2 separate regions of the Homo sapiens genome follow, and region 2 is linked to region 1. The links come from fine-mapping of genetic effects on gene expression. Tissue or cell type: cerebellum. Region 1 holds a variant in brackets; the other region holds the start of a gene. All regions are shown on one strand. Distances are from middle to middle.

Region 1 (10,420 bases):
CTGTGAGGGGCACACCCAAAACCAATGTGGGATGTGGAGAGGAAACAGCTGCCCCTTCGAGGGGCCATAAGAGGCAGAGGCCTCAGAGCAGCAAAACAGTAAAGGGACCCATCAGAGAGGTGGCTGAGGATACAAGGATTTTACCTAAAACTGACTGTGATCCCAAAGGGTGTGGTGGCAGTGTTTCAAAAGTCGAGGGTGATGGGAGGTGGGGTCAGGGTAGCAGAGGGGCTTCACATGTTGGGGTGACATGGAGTCTAGGCCTTCCTGTGGATAGGAGTCACATGGGAGAGAGGGCACAAGGAGATGCCTCCGTGGCCTCAACAAGGTCAGTGCTTGCGAAGCTTCAGGGCTGGGGGCAGGGAATGGGGTTCTTTTCAGAGACATGCAGAGCTTTGGGGTGCCCTGTTCGTGCCTAACAGTGGCTGGGTGGAAGCCGAGAGCGTGGGATTCTGGGTCGACGTCAGCTAGGCTGAGACCGGCTGCCCGTGAGAACCGGGATCTGGCTGGAGGCACCTGCATCATTACGATGGCTGTACTCACCTTTCCCCCCTTCTCTCTCCTCTCATAACCCACCCCAGGTGTGGCTGGCCCTGCCCTCTGCTCCAACCTGGAAGTTTTCACAGGCCTCCCAGCATTGCCTGGGGACCTGGGGATGGAAAATTCCTGAGACTTCCAGGTGAGGTCGGCAAGAGGGCTGCTCCCTGTCCTCCAGCACAAGAGAATTCGCTGCATACCACTCCACTCTCCTCATGTCCTCGGGCCCTTGTGCCTTCCCCCAGGACTCCCTCATCTAGCACATCCCATCACTAGATTTTACTTTTGGTCAGTGTCAATACAGTGTCCATTTATTTCACAATTTCACTGAGAATTGCACACCAATTTTGCCTCTTTTTAGAAAAAAAAAGTCTATTTTTACAAAGACATGGAATCAACCCAGGTGCCCATCAGCAGTGGACTGGATGAAGAAAGTGTGGTTCAAATACACCATGGAATACTGCACAGCCATAAAAAAGAACAAAATCATGTCCTTTGCCACAATGTGGATGCAGTGGTGGCCATTATCCTAAGTGAATTAATGCAGGAACAGAAACCCAAATGTTCTCATTTTTAAGTGGGAGCTAACCATTGGATACACATGAACATAAAGATGGCAACAATAGACACTGGAGACTCCAAAATGGGGGAAGGAAGGACGGCGGCAAGCATTGAAAAACTATTGGCCAGGTGTGGTGTCTCATGCCTGTAATCCCAGAACTTTGGGAGGCCAAGGAGAGTGGATCACCTGAAGTTAGGACTTCGAGACCAGCCTGGCCAACATGATGAAAACCTGTCTCTACTAAAAAAATTAAAAATTAGCTGGGCATGGTGGCAGGCTCCTGTAATCCAAGCTACTCGGGAGGCTGACGCAGGAGAATAGCTTCAACCCAGGAGGCAGAGGTTGCAGTGAGCTGAGATCATGCCACTGCACTTCAGCCTGGGCGACTAGAGCAAGACTCCATCAGAAAACAAAACAAAACAAAAACAAAAAACAAAGAAAAAAAACTATTGAGTATTATGCTCACTTCCTAGGTGACAGGATCACACACACCCCAAACCTCAGCAACATGCAATATACCCAGATAACAAACCGGCACATGTACCCCCAGAATTGAAAATAACAGTTTTTTAAGGCTAATTTTGTAACCATTTAAAAATTGAAAACAAAATATAATGGATAAGTTAATGTTGCTATGCTTATTTTACAACCTAATTATCACAATTAGAATTTAAATTTCCTACAAGTGACTCCAATTCAGCTGTTACCCAGGGAAAATGCCATTTTATGAGGCAGTAAACTCTAGCAGACAGAAAAAAAGCCAGCGTTGAAACAGTTTTTCCTTTTCACACAGGTCCTGGGTCAGATTTTTAGCTGCATAAAACCTTAATAGTTTTCATCTACATGTGGTCATTCACCTAATGGTTACAGCTTTGCCTTGTTCAGGGACAGGACCATGTCTCTTCCTGAAAGCTGAGCTGTGCTGGTGAGCAAAGTGCTGAGGGGATCTGGCCTTACTCACTCCACAACCCCCTCAGCCCCCAGAACTCTGTGGAAGTAGGCTGTGATCCAATACAGAGCCACATCATCCTGGGAATATTCCCAGGATCTAGTCTAGGGTTGTAGTGGAAAGCGTCCAAGGATGTTAAGGCTGAGATCAGACAAGGATGCTCTGGGAAGCCAGATTCTGCATGTTAGCACGGAAGCCACAAATCTTGCAGCTTTCTCCCCTGAAAACCACAGTGGCCCTTTGGGTTCTCTCCTTTGAAGATAGATCCACACCTATCAGGCACAATGTGGCTCTGTTGAAGGTTAATGCTGAGAGCCTTAACCCCATCGTCCTTCAGAGACAAAGCAGAAGCTGCCTCTGATCATCTGAGCTGGCAGGTGCTTCCTCAAGGAGCCCTGTGGAAAGTCACCATTCCTACACCTGGTCCCATTGTGTCCTGTGGCTCTCAGCAGTAAATGACTTTGTCTAAGATTACATTCAAAAAAGAGTTAAATTCCTGAGTGAGGAAAATTCAAAGCCCCCTCAAGCATTGCTCTTGTCAAGAATTGGTATTGTGGGCTGAAAGGCCACATTCTGCAACAAGAGATTAAGGGACTCACAGGGACAGGCAGTGCTGGAGGCCCTGCGAGAGTCTGGGGGCCTGAGGGAGTTGGTGCCACTTCACTGCAGGATGTTAGAGCCAGTTGTGTGAGAGGAGAGCTCACAGCCTGCCAGGACTCCATGTGGCAGGAGGGGCTGGTACAGATGTGTGGAGAACTCAGAGACCATCTGGGCAGTGCAGATGGGTTTAATTCTTCCTTGATCTTCTGCCATTTGTGAGCCAACCTGTTGTTCCAAGATTCTTTGTGATGTCCTCTGTACTTGCCCGGTTGGCCATCCTTGCTACTTTGATAGAGGCATTGGATCTTCTCTCTGCCATCCTCTTAGGATCTTGTTTTTTTCCAAAGTGGTCACAGAAATTTGAACTTCAGTAGCTAACTGTGGCTGAACTGTTAATATAAGTGAACTTAAAAATGTGACTTTCTTATCACTCTGGGGGATCTTCAAGCTCATCCCTGGAGAAGTCTAAGAAAGGCTACAGAACCATCAGGAGAGAAGGCCAAAATGTCACGTCCATCAGGTTCCGGGTACTATCCATGATAGCATTACCCAAAAGCTTATGCATAACAATCAGAGGTCGTTTTAAAAGGCCAGCCAGTCAGAGAGGGAACTGTCTTTGGTGTCAATGCACACAGCCTTGGAGGCAATGGTGCCCCCAATCTACTGCTTCCTTTTGAAGAGACGTCTGCAGGCTGAATTTCACAGTTACTGTCTTTTGTGTCCCCACAAAATCCATGTTGGTTTTCTAGTAACCCCCCTGGATGACCTGCACAGTTATTATGGTGTGAGCAGATGTGAGGTGGTCTCCATCATCTATCAAGCTGGACCTGAGCTCCTAGATTGTTCCTCTGCGTTCATCAAAGTCTTGGTTTTCACCAGCATCTTTACACAGTTTTATTTATTTATTTGCTGCATTAAAAAACTACACTCAAACCCAATGGCATGAATCATTAGTGATATATCTCTTCTTACGATTTTGTAGGTCCACCGCATAGCTCTTCTGTTTCATGTGATGTTGGCTGGAGCATTGGGATGTCTGGAAGTTTCCAAGTGTCCTCACTAGCCTGGCTAAATGCTGGTTGGGAGCTCAACTGGGGCTTGGCTGATAAGGCCTTTGATTCTCTTCTAGTGGATCTTGGCATGTGGCTGATAGGACTTCCTCTCATCATGGCAGCAATGAGTGAGAAGCTTAAAGGGCAGGAGGAGTTGGCTGTT[A/G]CTCAATGTTGTATATGTTTTGACTTCTTTCCATTCCCATTGGGCTAAACTTTGGAAACTCAAAAGCTAAAAGCTAAAACTAGATTAGCTTACACTTTTTTTTTTTTTTTTTTTTTTTGGTGGTGGTGGTTGGGGAGATGATGAGGCCCAGAGAAAAAGGAAGTATCTGTTTAAAGAAATTAGCTGACATTTCACGAAAGGACATCCCATTATGCTTATTTTAACACTACATAAGTTTTGCATAATATCTTGTTTCATTGCTATGCAGATTTTTCACCCTTGGTCTAAGACTCTTAGCTTTCTGTAATTACATCTGCCATTTAACACACGCAGCAGGACTGAAGGATGTCTCTGCAATAATTAATTCTGAAATCTGTTGATTTAGGTAAAACTGAGCACTTTTTTAAAATAACAGGAATAGTATATTGCATTTTTATGAAAGCATTTGGTCTATCAATCTGGTAGGCAGAATAATGACCTCCCCCAAGATGTCCATATGCTAATCCCCAGAACCTGTGCATATGTTATTTTACTTGGCAAATGGGACTTTGTGGAGGTGATTAAAGTTAAGGACCTTGGGATGGGAAGATGATCCTGGATTACCTGTGTGTGCCCAATGTAATCAAAGGTGTTCTCTTAAGTGGGGAACCTTTCCTTGGGTATGCTCAGAGAAACAGATAGATCCATGGAAGTAGGTCAGGGAGATGCTCCGTTCCTGGCATTGAGAAGAGGCTACAAGCCAAGGAATAAAGGAGGCTTCTAGAAGCTAGAAAATGCAAGGAAACCTATTTACCCCTAGAGTCTCCAGAAAGGAAGATAGCCCTGCAGACACCTAGATTTTAATCCAGTGAGACCCACAACAGACTTGTGGCCTACAGAACCACAAGGTAATGCATTTGTTTTGTTTCTAGCCACAAACTTTTTACAATCTCCTATCAGTTTGCTCAATGCTACTGATGATTGTTTCTATGAGGAAGCTTTCTAAAAAAACAAACAAACAAAAAAACTTTCTTTTTTTGTACTTTTGCATTGCTTAGATTCCTCAAAAAAGTGTGCACTTTTTTTTTCAAAACAATGATTTTCTGAGGAGAAGGAGGAGAAAGAGAGGCATAAGGAGAGGAAAAGAAGAAAGCAAGGCAAAGGCAGAGGAGAAGGAAATACAGAAGATTCTGGGACACATTTCTGCTCAGATTTTATGTCCCATTGGACACTTCTTGGCCAAAACAAAGCTAGCCTCATGCAGGAGAAGCTGAATGTCAGGCAGAACCAGCTGGTGGCTTCTCTGTCCCTTCATATGCTCATGTGTGGCTGCCACATGAATCCTGAGGAATCTGCCTCACTCAAAGGGAGTGTTGGCATGGGGGAGTGTTGATATATATTTTTTGGATTAAAAAAACTATGCTGAATTTTAAAAATTGCTTTTGATGTCATGAATTCTCAATAGCCTCTGATGTGTGTTTCTGAAGCTCATTTCACGGGGATTGCATTTTCTCTCCTTGACTTATTTCTGATGAGACCAGGATGCCTTGCAGCTTTTGCCTGGCTTTTCCTGAGCACTGGGGCCTTGCCATCAGCTTCTTGGCATTCATCTGTGTTGTCCTCACAGCAGCCTGAGTGATCCTTTCCAACACGTCTTGTCACAGTTTTCCTTGCTCAGGGCAATCTGTGGCTTCCCGCCTTGCTCTGAGTAATGCCAAAGTCCTTTCTGTCATCTGCAAGGCCCATCATGAGCTGGTCCCTGTCCCCTCTCTGACTCACCTCCATTCCTTTCCCACCTGTTTCTGCCACCACAACCAGGCTGGCCTCCTTGATTTCCATCATCACTTGAAGAAAGTGCCCCCTCAGGGCATGACACCTGCTTTACCACTGCCTGCAGGGCTCTGTTCTCATCAGCTCTGGGGTCTGTTCACTCATTCTTTTAGAAATCTGCTCAAACGCCTCTTTTCAGAAAGGTCTCCTTGTCACTCTACCTAAATGATCCCTCTATCTCCTATGACTTGCTTTTTTTCCTTTAAAGAAATTATCATCAACTGTCATACTTCATATATGGAATATATAATGTCATGCTATATTTATATAATGCCTATATATGGACTTATACATGTATATAGACACAAATATAGACATTATGTAAAGTCTAATATAATGTATTAATACAAGAATAATAACTATATATAGTATAAACAACATATATACTATACATATATACATATTGTATATGCTGTATATATACACTCTATAATATATACTATGTTATATATGCTGTATATATAGTATGCATACAACATATATACTGTATAAACTATATATAGTAGTATATAATATTATATATAGTATAGGATATATAGCATACTACATTATAATATATAGTATTTAATCTTATAGTATTCTATGTAGTATATATAGTATTCTATATATAGTATTATAGTATTCTATACTATATTATATATAATTTACTGTATTAACATACTATATATCATACTAATATAATGTACTATACTAGTACCTATAATATACTATATATAATATATAAATATACTATAAAACAGTATTATATTTGTTATGTTATAGTATTAATATAGTATCTACACTACATGTAATATAGAGTATATATAGCATATACTATATAGTATATATTATATAGCCTATATATAATATATATAGTAAATATAGTATATAGTATATGTATATATTGTCTATATAGTATATACTATATAGAATGCCATACTACACATATATAACCTTTAGTGTATATGATGTCATATTACATATATAATAAACAAACATACATGCACATGTATAAGTGGATGTGCATTTATTTGTTGATGAATTGTTTCTAACCAGTAAGAATTTAAGCTCCATGATGGGAGGGACTTTTTTTTACTCTGAATCTTTATTGCACATCCTAAGTTTTGGTAATATTTGGTGAATGAAATATGTTGTAATGAATGTATAAATGACAGTTAAACTTAATATTTTTCCAGTTAAACTGCATGTATGCCTCTGTGTATTCCTATATGTCCATAAAAAGCAATGTTTTGAAATACAAGGACCAGAAGATGCCTGCCTTAGAAAAACCTAAGGATCTTGTTTAAAATGCCTATTTCGAGGCAGAGACACTGAGTCTGAACGCCTGCGGATGGGTTCTAAAATCTGCTTTGATAGCAAAGTCCTCATGAGATGCTCTCACCAAAGCGTGAGATCCAGTGGTCTGTGAAGTCCTATGAAAGAATGGATACAAGAGAAATGCAGATTACTATATTCCCTCCAAGGCTTCACTTCCCTGTTTTGATGGAGAGATAGCATGTCACCTAGAATAATGCAGGAAAAAATCACTAGAACCAAATGATACCATGCAAACAAAACACATCAGTGGTGATGTATTGTGATTATGATCAGCCCTTCTTTACACAAATTTTAAGAGACTCCAAGTCTCCTGGGTTTACACAACCAGTGTTATAATTGGACAGCCGGGCTCTTTGTCATTTCCCAGGCTCTCAAAATTAGATAATTTAAAAAACATCCACAGCAGCAGAAACCACAGCAATAAAACTAATGGCAATTTTCTTTCCTTCTGAGAAGAGTTCCCTGTCTTTGGGTCTTCTGTTTAACCCTATGTGGGGTTTTATCTAACAAGCATGCAAGACCTGGAGATCTTGCATGAACCTAACAACAGAGACTCCCAGACTCTAGGTGAGCCCAGTGATGATGAAGCAATCCTCAGGGGAGTCTGGAACTTGGGCCTGGGTGTTCAAGTCACCCATGCTTCAAAGTAATTGATAATTATTTTTACCTATTCTTTCATTCCAAAATATTTACCAATGGTATATGGGGTTATTATAACGATATACATTATCGTCATCATTGCTAACTTCTTTGGACATTTACTATGTATCTGGTTCTGTTGCCATTTATGTTGTTAACTCATTTAAACATCACTGCAACTCACTGAGGAAGGTACTGTTGTTATCATCCCCCATTTATAGAAGAAGAACACACAGCACAGAAAGCTACTACATAGATGCTGAAGTAATAAATCAAATTGAGTCAAGGCACTTACATAATGGGAAAAAACCCCACAATTTCCATAGAAGAAAATCATTTCAAGTTATTTTGGACCAAGGACAAAAAGGGTTCAGACAGGGGAATTATGGAGAGATGAACATTTAAGCTGGATATTAAAATTTTATAGGAATTATAGACTCAGAAATGATGTGTGGAGAAAAAAATGGGCTGTGAGGAGGAGGGGGAAGGCATCCCAGGCAGAAAAATCCTCAACAGTGTATCCATGCAAAAATGAGCATCTGGACCCTTGAGTGGGACGCACCAGTGCCCACCAGGATTTGGGGTTTCAAGGGTATTACACTTTGCTGGACTTGAGGCCTTGCCTTGAACTCTTGAGTTTCTCTGTTCACCAGTGGGATCAGTTGGTTAGTCCCGATTCCCAAATTAGCCTGGACATTGACCACAAAGCATAGGAACAAGATTTTAGTAAAAGTTTTTAAATACCATATGTTATACAGTAAATTAACTCAGGAGTGGGGTCCATACCTCTGCTTCTGGGCCCTAGAACAGGATTTGAAGCTCTACCTTCTGGGCGATGTCTTCAAGTCTCCTGTTACCCAGAGAAAGAGAGCAGCAGAGCTCAGAAACCCAGCACGGCAGGGCTGCAGATCGAAATGCCTCCTCTTCCGACAGTATTTTCACGCACCCTCAAGATTAAGAATCCCTGCTTTTTTTTTTTTTTTTTTTTTTTTTTTTTTTTTTTTTTTTTTTGCTAACTGCACTGTTTCTTTTCTCTCTTGGTTTCATTTTTGATCTGAAACAAACAAACATTGGATCCTGTGAGAACCAGCTAAGTTGCTGCTCTGTCCTTTGGGTTGAGAAAGCTGGGGAGAAATTCACTGAAGACTAATTTAAATCATTTCCCACTTTAGACCCTCACTGAAGAGTATTAGAAACATCTAGGTTGAGAAAGATTTGTATCCTTTCATCATAAAGAATAGCTTCTTCACTTTATACTTGTTAGGAAAAAAATTTCTCTGGAATGCAAATAACAGAATCCTACATAGAAATAGGATTAAAGAGTGAGACAGGGTAGGGTGGGGTGGGCTACAGGGTGGAAATGTGTGTGTTAGGAGAGAGAAAGGAGGGGGATAAAATATTATCCATAAAGTTGGGCTCTCCATCTGGGGCTGATGGAAGAAGAAATTTGCCTACCTTCATTGTGTAGGATTTGAAGTCCTGGTACCCAAAGGCAAAGCATCTTTGTGGGGTGTGTTCCATATCATTAACCCTGGTCATGCATGGCATTTTTCCTGGAGATAATTTCCTCTCCTAGTCTATCAATGTCAAAAATGAAATATTTAGAGTCTGTAGCTGTTCTACAAGAAAGCTACATGAAACATTGTAGCTTCTTAAGTTAAATGACTGATCACCCTCAATCACGTAATTCAGGCCCCACATGGGGAGGGGGTGGCTAACTACACAGCCTTGTTATCTATGTAATTCCTGATTTCCTTTCTTCCTACTTTCTTCTTTCTTTATGCAATGTAAGCTATAAGTACCTGGGGTAATATTAAGGTTTTACTGGGAGTATAAAATAAGAGTATGTGGACATGCAAAAGCCAAGCTCAACCATATGTAAACAAAGTCATCCTAAGTTATATTTGATAAAAGGGTGGATATAGACTATGAATGCCAAAGTTCAGAGACCAGGACAAAGCTAAGGAAGGGAATGGCCTTTAGCGGGTGCTCAAGATGGGAGGTTGGTTGAGACAAGGCTTGTGACAGGGCATCGACAACAGTCTGGGGGAGGATGCAGGGGCCTTCCAGCAGGGAGGCAGCCAACCACATCAAGGTGCATCCCCACAGGTCAGTGCGCATCCCGCGGATTCATGCCATTGTGTGCACTTGGTTTTCCACTATGCTTTCACTTCCAACAGCCAGCACCTGTACCTCTTTGAGTCCTGTGCCTGGGCCAGTGCCGACTTGGGTGAAGGTTGCCAGAGTCTGCTTTCTGCACACATGGGTGACTCTTATCCAGTGGCTCTGTGTGCTGGAGTATAAGTACTCCAGTTCTCTTACCCCTAATGGGACAGTTTGATGTGGGAACTGCTCTACCTTCAAAGCTCTCCTGTGAGGTTGAGCCAAACTCACCTTCCTGGAGACTTCACCTGGTAATTCAGCCTTGCTTACCTCACTTCCCATTCCTGTTCCACTTCCCCACTCACCTACCAGTTTTTCCTGGTAATACATTCTGAAAAATCACTTTCACGTGAATCCTTGTCTCAGAGTCCATGTGCTTCTAGGGAACCCAACCAGAATGCTTGGCAGGCATGTTCCAGTCAAGACAGGTGAGCCAGATTACTACAGCTCAGTGATATTAGCCTTGCAGATCATTTTTTCTCCTCCACACCCACACTTTCATTCCATGATCACCAAACAGCTTCCAACTATAAACCCTCTTTTCATGTGGCTTTTATACAAAGAGAGAAGGCAGAAAGAACATTTCTAGCTCACCTTGGCAGTTTTATTTCACAGTGTACATTTGGAGC
Region 2 (10,420 bases), 38 kb after region 1:
AATGAGAGCCAGTCATTTGCAACAACGTAGATAAAACTGGAGGTCATTATGTTAAGTAAAATAAGCCAGGCACAGAAAGACAAACTTTGCATGTTCTCACTTCTTTGTCGGTGTTAAAAATTAAAACAATCAAACTCATGGAGATAGAGTAAAAGGATGGTTGCCTGAGGCTGGGAAGAGTAGTTGGGGGATTGGGAGGGGGACGTGGGAATGAATAATGGATACAAAGAAATAGTGAGAAACAATGAATAAGATCTTGTATTTGCAGCACAAAAGAGTGACTATAGTCAAAATAGTTTAATTGTACATTTTAAATATCTAAAAGAGTATAATTGGATTGTTTGTAACACAAAGGATAAATGCTTGAGGTGATGGTTACCCCATTTGCCTTGATGTGATTATTACACACTGTTTGCCTGTATCAACATATCCCATATAGTCCAGAAATATGTACACCTACTATGTATCCACAAAAATTAAATGTTTAAAATTTAAAAATTAATAAAATGCATACAGTTGTAGAAAGAAATAAAAATGTATATCTTTGTATACATCATGATCATTTATATAGAAAATCATAAGAAAACTTCAAAAATCTACTAGAACGAATGACCTTGGCAAAGTCATAGGGTTCAATTTAATATAAGAACTATGTTGTGCTTCTATATACTGGTAATAATAATTGGAAAATAAAATGTGATCAACTACACTATTTAGCATATTATCTAAAAATATGAGCTATTTAAGAATAAAATATTTGCAAGATCTGTGCTTTAAAAACTTCAAAACATGTTGAAAGAAATTAAAGATAACATAAACAAGTGTAGATATATACTATGTTCATGGAACAAGAAACTCAATATGTTAAGATGTCAATTCTACTCAAATTGGTCTATAGGTTGAACGATATGCTAATCAAAATCCCAACGGTCTTCTGATGTAGAAATTGGCAAATTGACCCTAAAATTTATACAGAAATGCTAAGAACATAGAACATAGAATAGTCAAAATAATTTTGAGTTAAAAAAAGAATAAAAATTCAAGATATAACCATCTGATTTCAAGATGTCCTGTATGGTAACAGTGATACGGTTTGGACATGTGTCCCCACCAAATCTCATGTTGAATTGTAATCCCCAGTGTTGGAGATGGGGCCTAGTGGGAGATGACTGGATCTTGGGGAGAAGGTCTCATGAATGGTTTAGCACCATCCCCACTTGGTACTGTATAGTGAGTGAGTTCTCACAAGATCTGATTGTTTAAAAGTGTGTGGCACCTCCCCTCCTCCCTTCTTGCTCCTGCTCTGGCCGTGTAAGATGAGCCTGCTTCCCCTTGGCCTTCCATGATGATTTTCAGTTTCTTGAGGCCTCTCCAGTAGCAGAAGCCGCTATGCTTCCTGTACAGCCTGAAGAGTCATGAGCCAATTAAAGCTCTTTTCTTTATAAATAGCCAGTCTCAAGTATTTCTTTTGGCAGCCAACTGACTAATTAGAACTGACTAATGCAAACAGTAATCAAGATAATGCAGTATTTGCATACAGATAGACCTGTAGACCACAGGTCAACTCATTGTTTATAAAGGCAGCAAGGTAATTCAGTTAGGATGGTCTTTCCAATAAACAGTGCCCAAATAATTGAATAGACATTGATTAAATAAAAAGAACCTCAATGAGTTCCTCATGTCACATGCAAAAATTTACTCAGAATGGAGTATAGGTCTAAGTTTAAAAGCTGAAACCATAAAACTTCTAAAAGAAATTATAGACAATGATCTTCACAATTATGGGGTAGGCAAAGCTTTTCAGGCCACACAAAGGACAAACTACAAAAAATGGAGAAACTGAACTTCATCAAAATTTTAAATTCAGTTACATGAAAGAGACCAAAGAATATATTGTCCAAGCACCATGGTTCATGCCTGTAACTCTAACACTTCAGGAGGCTGAGGTGGGAGGAACCCTTGAGCTCCGGAGTTTGAGGCTGCAGTGAGCCATGATTGCACCACTGTACTCTAGCCTGGGTGAGAGAGCAAGACCCTGACTCAAAAAAAAAAAAAAAAGAAATAATATATAATATATAATATATAAAGAACTCTCACAACTCAATAATAAGACCAATTGAAACTACCTTTGTAAAAATTATAACAGTGAGAAAATTATGACGCTGAGAGAAATCTAACCTGATTCCATCTAGCTTCTAAACTCCAAGCTGCCCTTGTTCATTCCTGGTCATAGGCTGAACTAACTTTGGAAGGAACTTAGTTTATAGTTTAACTTTGAAACAAAGATAACAGCCCTTTCCCAAAATCAACTCCCATCTTGCCTGGGGACCAGACTGCCTTTATAGGAGTAATATATTAGCCACAAGATTAGAAATTATGTTCTGGAGTCATACAGCCAGAGGCCACAAGATGCTGAACCTCCCCAATTGCTCCTAGGGATAAGATCACTATTGTAAAACCTAAGACTGGTGCTCGAGATATTTTCCAGACCCTGCATTCTGATCCACCAGCTAGCACCCAGACCAGTAATCTGGCTCTACCAGTTCTGCAATCCCACCCAGGAACAGAAGACAACAAGAAAAACCCACTTCGATCCCCTGTGATTTCATCTCTGACCTAACCAATCAGCACTCTCCAGTCCCTGGCCTCCTGTCTGCCAAATTATCCTTTAAAAACCCCGGTCTCAAAATTTTCAGGGAGACTGATTTGAGTAGTAAAACTCCAGTCTCCCATTCAGGTGGCTCTGAGTGAATTAAGCCCTCTCTACTGCAATTCCTTTACCTGGGCATGCAAAGGATAAACTCCTTGATAAATCACCTTTACTTGGGCAGCAGGCAAGGAGAACCCATTGGACAGTTACAAAATGGCCCTATTTTTAAAAATGGGCATAAGATTTTGCAAACATTTCACAAAAAGAAATTCACGAATGGCCAATAAACACATGAAAAAACACTTAACATTACTAGTCATTAGGAAAATGTGATTAAAACAATGAGATACCACTTTATACCCATTTCAGTGGCTCTGGTTTGGAGCAACTAGAAATCTCAGGCATTACTGATGGAAATGTAAAGTGGTACAGTCAGTTTGGAAAACAGCTGATGGTTTCTTATAAAGTTAAAAATACACTTACTATATGACACAGCAATCCCACCCCCAGGCATTTACCCAAGAGAAATGAGAACATATGTCCACACAAATACGTGGACACTAATACCCATAGCCATCTGATTTTTAATGGGCTAAAACAGAAACAACCCAAATGCCCATGGATACACATATTGGAGTACGTTTATATAATAGAATACTACTCAGCCATGAAAAGCATGGACTAATGATGTACAGCAACACAGATTGAATCTCAAAAAACGTTCAACTGACTTTTTAAAAAGCCATCAGATAACTTCATTTATATGGAATTCTAGAAAAGGCAATACTAATCTACAATGACAGAAAGGAGACCAATGGCTGTCTATGACCAGGGCTGGGGAGAGTGGTTACTGCAAAGGAAACCAGAATTCTTTGGGGTGAGGTCAATTCTCCATGTCTTAATGTGGTTATGGTTACATAGGAGGATACATTTGTCAAATTTATTAAACTGAAAAATAAAGTTAATTTTTTTTTAAAGGGAGACTGTTTCTCCTGTTTTGTTTTCCCCTTCACTTTTCAGAATTAAGCTGCAGTTAGCAGACTTTCCTGGTTACTTTGAATCAGGAACTCCTCAAAAAGTCTGTTGATGAAGGGAGAATCAGAATTAGGCATTTAGAGCAGCTTGATTTGACAACTAAATGTAGAAATTCCTAATAAAAAAAAAAACCACTTGAAATGTTGCCACATATGGAATGGGCTGGAGAAGATATCACTGAGGCATCATTGTTGTAGGGTGTTCTTTCTAGGGAAGGGAAGGGAGGTGAAGGACCATGAGCTCATCATTATCAAGGATTCTGAAACTTCAGTTCATTTTTATTAATAAATTACCTTCATGTGGCCAATGAATTGCCGGTCTGATTGGAAACTCTTTCCTGCACCGAAGAAACTGCACCAATTAGCAATATTCATCTGCCAATTCAGCTCTGCAGGTTCAGGCTCATTTAACTTGACAAAAATAGCTTCTTTTTCTTGAGTAGGGGAAGTTTTTCTCTGCCTCCAGCCCTAGTGATGGGCAGAGATGGTGGTGGAATCTTATTACAGCCTTCCTGTCCCTGATGTTCTTTATCCAGCCGCAGCGCCACAGGCTGCCCGTTTTTTTTTTTTTTTTGGATACCCATTTCACGACCTTCTTTGGTTTCTTTATCACAAAAGTCACTGTATGTCTTTTAGCTCAAAGCCCTACTGCAGTATTCTCTGTTTGTCTTTTTCCCTTTACTCTTAATATCTTATTTGTTCCTTCCCTTTTCCCCTTCTTCCCTTACCCCCTTTCATTCTTCCCTCTTTTTTTCTTTAATTCTTCACCAGCCCCTAGCATATTCTAAACTATTTGCCCCTTTCATGATGTAATGATGAACCGACCCCCGCCATAGTAATCAGGTGGGTTTTTTTTTCTTTGCAGTTTCCTTATACTGAAGTGGTACAACCCCACCCCCATTACCATCACCTCCACTTCATTTTAAATGTTCTACTCTTGTCCAAGATTGACTGGCCAGTTCTTCCTACCATTTCAGCCCATCATAAATTCGTAAATATGGATTCATTTGCTGAGCCTAAGTTTTCTGCATGAAAGTAAATCCCTTTTGTGATACCTACAAAAGTCACAGAATCATCAAACACAGTTCAAAAGAGCAAATGATAAATATTCATTGCATCATAATGATCTTGATTCTAAAAAGCAAATTATTTGCTATATAATAGGAACAGGCAGGTTAAAAACAATAATTAGAGTGTGAAAGAGGTAAGAGAAAGTTCTGAGAGTGATATAAAGTTTCATTACATTGACTGAAGATGGTTTCATGGAAGTATATTATGTAAAAACTCATCAATAATACACTTTAAATATGGATGGTTTATTTACATCAATTATGACTCAATAAAGCTGTAAAGCAAAGGAAATAAATAGTAAAAAACAAAGACAAACAAAAACATCAATGACTTAGGAATAATTAGCCAAGATATTCTTAAATGTAGGCTAGTGTATATGTAATTTTAGACTTGCTATTTATCAGCTGTATCCTTATTCTATGAAAATCTCATTTTACCTTAAAAAAATTAAGATGCGAGGACATACCTCTGAATGTTCAGTGGTCCTGGGATGCTCTCATGCAAGCTCGTTTCACTGTGAGCTGATGAATCAGCATAAAAGCTGAATAGTATCTCATGATCACACTCTGTTCTGCCAATAAGACAGTTTATTTTAACTTGCTGTTCCCATATTTTGAAAGAGACTGACTGCTGCAGAAATATACAAATCAGAGATATTATCAATCCTGAATTCCCAGTAACTTTATTTTTATTCTACTTTGCTACACAGGCTACTGGAGTTAATGTCCTATAGGTACTTGAGGATGCTGGGCACTTGGCAGGTATGCATGTTGGTCAATTCATTTGACAACATTTGTTTGCAAGGAAAATTTTCCTTAATGCGTCTTCAAATAGAAAAGTCTATGAGTAATCAAATGTGAGTGACAGAAGGGTAACCTTATTCCAGTAATGTCCCCTTTAAAAATTTTCCCCCTGAGCAACCATAAAGAATAAAAATAGTGATAATTATCAGTTCTCTATTTTTGCTGTGGAAGCTGGGGAGTTATGAAACAAATATACAGCTCAGTTTATCAGGACATTAAAAAATGCATTATGCATGTTATTCTTACCCTAGTGACAAGTTATTTTTTTAACCATTGTTTTTTCTCTGACCTGATCTGATCCTTTTTCTCTTTCTTTCTTTCTTTTTCTTTCTTTTCTTTTCTTTCTTTCTTTCTTTTTCTTTCTTTCTTTCTCTCTCTCTTTCTTTCTTTCTTTCTTTCTTTCTTTCTTTCTTTCTTTCTTTCTTTCTTTCCTTCCCTCCTTCCTTTTTTCTTTCTTTCTCTCTCTCCCTTCCTTCCTTTTTCTTTCTCTCTCTCTCCCTCTCTCTCTTTCCCTTTCTCTTTCTTTCCTTCCTTCCTTCTCTTTCTTTCTTTCTTTCTTTCTTTCTTTCTTTCTTTCTTTCTTTCTTTCTTTCTTTCTTTCTTTCTTCCCTTCTTTCTTTCTATCTTTTGTATCACAGAAAGCTTCCTCCAATCCTTTTTCTAACAAGGTAGGGTGCAAACAAAGGAATAACAAACTTCCTTTAGATATGAGAAATGTGGATCTTTTAAAGTGTTATTTTTGAGAGTCTTAAGGCAACATTAGGATAATAACATAACATGAAAACTGTGGAGATAAATTTTGATCTCATGTGAGCCCCAGGGTGGCTTTTATTTACAAATCATGTTTACTTCTCAGAGGGGTGGGCAGACATAAGCCGGTGTTTTAGAGAGTCTGAGGTGAAAGCTTTTCTCTCCCCAACAATGGCATATTTGTAGTAGAATTTTCTCATAAGAGTCTTGGTGAACAAAAATACACAGGGATAGAAGGTGGAATGGAAGGAAGTCCATTTCAGAAGGAAATAATCCCAACATAACTTTCAAGATATAACAATAGGTTATTAACTGGTGGATTTGGCAGGGAAAATTCTGCTACATCATTTTTTCTTTTTCTTCTTCTTCCTTTCTTTTTAAATTTATTTTATTTTTTTATTTTTAGAGACAGAGCCTAGCTCTGTTGCCCAGGCTGCAGTGTAGTAGCACAATCATAGCTCACTGCAGCCTTCGACTCCTGGGTTCTAGAGATCCTCCTGCTTCACCCTCCCAAGAGCTGGGACTGTAGGTGTGCACCACCATGCTCAGCTAATTTTTTATTTTTTGTACAGACAGAGATCAGCCTCTATTGCCCAGGATGATCTTAAACACCTGGCTTCAAGTAATCGTCCCACCTCAGCCTCCCTAAGTGCTGGGATTATGGACATGAGCTACTGTGTCCAGCATGAAATCATTTATGATGTGTTGACCATTTTTCAACTGGATATGAAGGCAGTATAGACACACAACTGTGAATTTATCAAGACCTGTGCTTTGTTTACTTAGTTTCTTTATATAGGAATTTTCAAACAAATGTAAATTGGAGGCATGTACACTGCAGTAGGTAATGGCTGTATCAGTCAACACTTAGCCTTAGTTGTCACCACAATGTTTTACCCCAGTACCATGCCTATCCTCGTGGGCCAAAAACACAGATAGAGTCTAGAAGAATGCACAAAGCAGCTTTTCACCAAGGGTTAAGTTTCCATTCTACTTGCTAACCCACAGAGAACGCATAGAAGGTGGAGATTAGAGAGTGACTTCTACACTCCATTCAGCAGATTCCAGGTTTCTCGATGGCCATGAAGAGTCTTCGATCTAGAGCCTCAAGGTTACTAAATTGCCACTTTTCAAGGTTCCTATTCTTGCTTTCTCCTCCATGCTGCAGTCTTTAATTCCTTTGGTCTTCCCAGTTTTTCCCAGATTCTGCCCATTTGGTCTCTGGAAGGGGTTGTCAGTCACTCAGCTCCATGGGTTTTAATGCTAGGTGGAGTCATAGTGAAGTTTCTATAACATAATCAGACTTATTATTCCAAGGCCAAGACTGATCTACTTTTATCAGTTAGAACTCCTTAGATTGCAAGTGACAGAAAGCCCAAGCCAAGGGACTTGGGTCAAGTTTGTCCTCAAGCACTCGCTTGTCCTTTCAGCTTCTAGTATGTCCTTGCCCTCATCTACTCAGGCTTTCCTACCAATTGCTGGCTGGCTATTCTATAGTGACTTCAGGTTCAACATCAGACACAGAGACAACAGCCTTGCACAGACTTCTCCACCAGCAACATAGTTTTGTAAAAATCTAACCCCTATAACAAATCCTTTAATCTATATTACTTCTAGTGGTTCTACTTCGCTGACTAATAATATGCCTTCACATAATACATTCCAAGGTCTTGGAAAAGTCTATGCACATTGCATTCGTCTGTTCTTGCACTGCCATAAAGAAATACCTGAGACTGAGTAATTTATAAAGAAAAGATGTTTAATTGACTCACAGTTCTGTAGGTTATACAGGAAGTATGGCAGCATCTGCTTCTTGGGAGGCCTTAGGAAACTTACGATTATGGCAGAAGGTGAAGGGGAAGCAGGCACATCTTACATGGCCAGAGCAGGAGCAAGAAGAGGTGGAGTGGCAGGCTAGGCAGGTGACACAGAATTTTAAACAACCAGATCTTGTGAGAACTCTGTCATGAGAACAGCACCCAAGGGATGGTGCCAAACCATATATGAAGGATCCACCCCCATGATCCAGTCACCTTCCACCAGGCCCCACCTCCAACACTGGGGATTATAGGGACACAAGATTTGGTGGGGACACAGATACAAACCATATCACACATATACTCTGTCTGCCACTCTCTTGATTAAAAATTGCAACCTAGTTTAGACAGTCGGTCTTAGTAATAGTGAGTATTCTCTTTTTATATTTTATTGAAATCATTAGACAAATAATTATAAAGCTTGAGTCACTATTTAATATGTCATGAGCATTATTCATGCCTTTGCACAGTCTTTATAACCATAATTTTAAAAAGGCTTGACAATATTTGAGTGGATGCTCTGTAATTTCATTTTTCACTTTTCTATTGTTGGCGCTGTAGGTTTTTTCCAATACTTTACGGTTATGAATAATGATCCGAGGTGCTGCTTCATGCATATAATTTTTCCATATTTTTGGAACATTTGGTTAGTCTATAATTTCATAAATAGAGCATAAAGGTGTGTAAAAGGTATGAACCTTTGTATTGCTTTTGATTCATATTGTTTAATTGCTTTCAAAAGGACTAGGACAATTACAATCCCATTAGTAATTGGTAATACCCTTGCCAGCTTTGATTGTCCAGCTTGGACTGAGTTGTACATTCACCTGACTGTGATGAAGCAGCTGGTCCTGCAGCTCGAGCAGTGGAGTTTCCGAGTCTATGGAGTTTTTCTTGTTGATCCTCAGTTCATGGTGGAGTCATTCAAGTGTATTTCTGGCATCTTGGCAGTCCTGAGTGCCATGCTCTCTCTATAAATTCCGCAAGTTAACATCGTGATCAAAATGTAGCTGCAGAGTAAAAAAGCTAAAAAGGAAACTGTAAGTTTCTAGATCTAGACATGGATTCCTTATTTGATGATTCTACAAGTGGCTTAAGAAGCAAAGAATTCAAAAAAGTAACTAAAGTTGTATGTGGGCTGATGACTGCAGCATAGTTCTCTTCTTACCTTATGATCAGTCAGATGAAGAAAGTATGAACATTGTATTATAGCATATTGATTTAGCCATTCAATGTGGAGAAGATTCAACATTTAAATAACCAAAGGAATATGAAAATGAATCTTCTTCTATGTTTGAGGAATATTTTCAAGAACACCAGGATGAATGAAGAGTTTACTAAGGAGTAACTGTCTATACGTGAAGAGCTTGTGGCCAAACCGGCAGAATATTCTTCTCTTCGAAGAATGCAGTAGTAGAAAGCTGCATATTCTAATGAAAAAAAAGGTACATGTTTTTTTTTTTTTTTTATCAGCAGCATGCCTGAATCAAGTTTTGAATTATTCTGAAACTGCTGCTGCTTCACGTGGAAACTTGTAGTATTATTTTGATCGTATCAATTTAAATTTAAAAGTCAAAATTGAAATGAATGCACATAGAATTGTATATAAATTAGCACCTCTGCAACAGTTAATAAGGCTAATACAATCTCATTTTTACTGTTTGTATTGTTTTTGAGGTGCAGGAATTATTGTAACAAAATATACATGTCTATCCAGAGGGAAATATCTGGAAGGATATAGGTAAGACCACTGCCCATCTATATCTTACCATTTCCCTACATTGAAAATGTATTATTTATATAATTAAAAAATTTAAAAGGGAATATAATTTTAAGGTCTTTCCTGATTTAACAGAAAAAAGTACCTATTCAATTTAAAAGGCATTCTACATTGCTCATTTTATGCTAATATCTATTTTCTGCTTTACAATATCTAGAAAGTATCAATATCTTTACTGATCCAGAGTACACCTGAAATATTGGAAAGACACTTTCCCTGGACATTAATTTCTGAGTGGTGAATGCAATCTGCCAAAAATATAAGGATTTGAGCACATATTTTCTAATTAAACTAGGATACTTATTGGATCGTTTTTGTAATTGGAAAGGTTAAGAGAATCATCAGTGGAGAGAATGCGGAGGCTATAAAAACACTGCAATTAATAACTTATCTGTTTAAATTTTAGGTAATAGCACTTTTGCTCTTCATAATAGCATCTTCAGGGAAAGCATATTGAATTCAATCTGCTGTGTGAAATATTTTCAGTTAGAGAAGGTACAGTATGTATATATAAA

Evidence for each region. PIP is the estimated chance that this variant, and not a neighbour inherited with it, causes the effect.
Region 2: it holds the start of LINC00836, and the variant in region 1 is fine-mapped to the expression of LINC00836 in cerebellum (GTEx, PIP 0.92).

The regions. Positions count from the first base shown.
Region 1 is chr10:25,684,635-25,695,054 of GRCh38, reverse strand. The region is part of intron 1 of LINC00836 (long intergenic non-protein coding RNA 836); the gene reads right to left. It also overlaps the pseudogene HIRAP1. Among named protein-coding and RNA genes, the nearest start is that of LINC00836, 38 kb to the right of the region's middle. RefSeq lists an enhancer at 464-964. The variant A/G (reference allele first, on the strand shown) is at 3,864.
Region 2 is chr10:25,646,601-25,657,020 of GRCh38, reverse strand. LINC00836 (long intergenic non-protein coding RNA 836) reads right to left here and starts at 5,309. Exons shown (of 3, transcript NR_108068.1): 1 at 5,222-5,309. It also overlaps the pseudogene GPN3P1.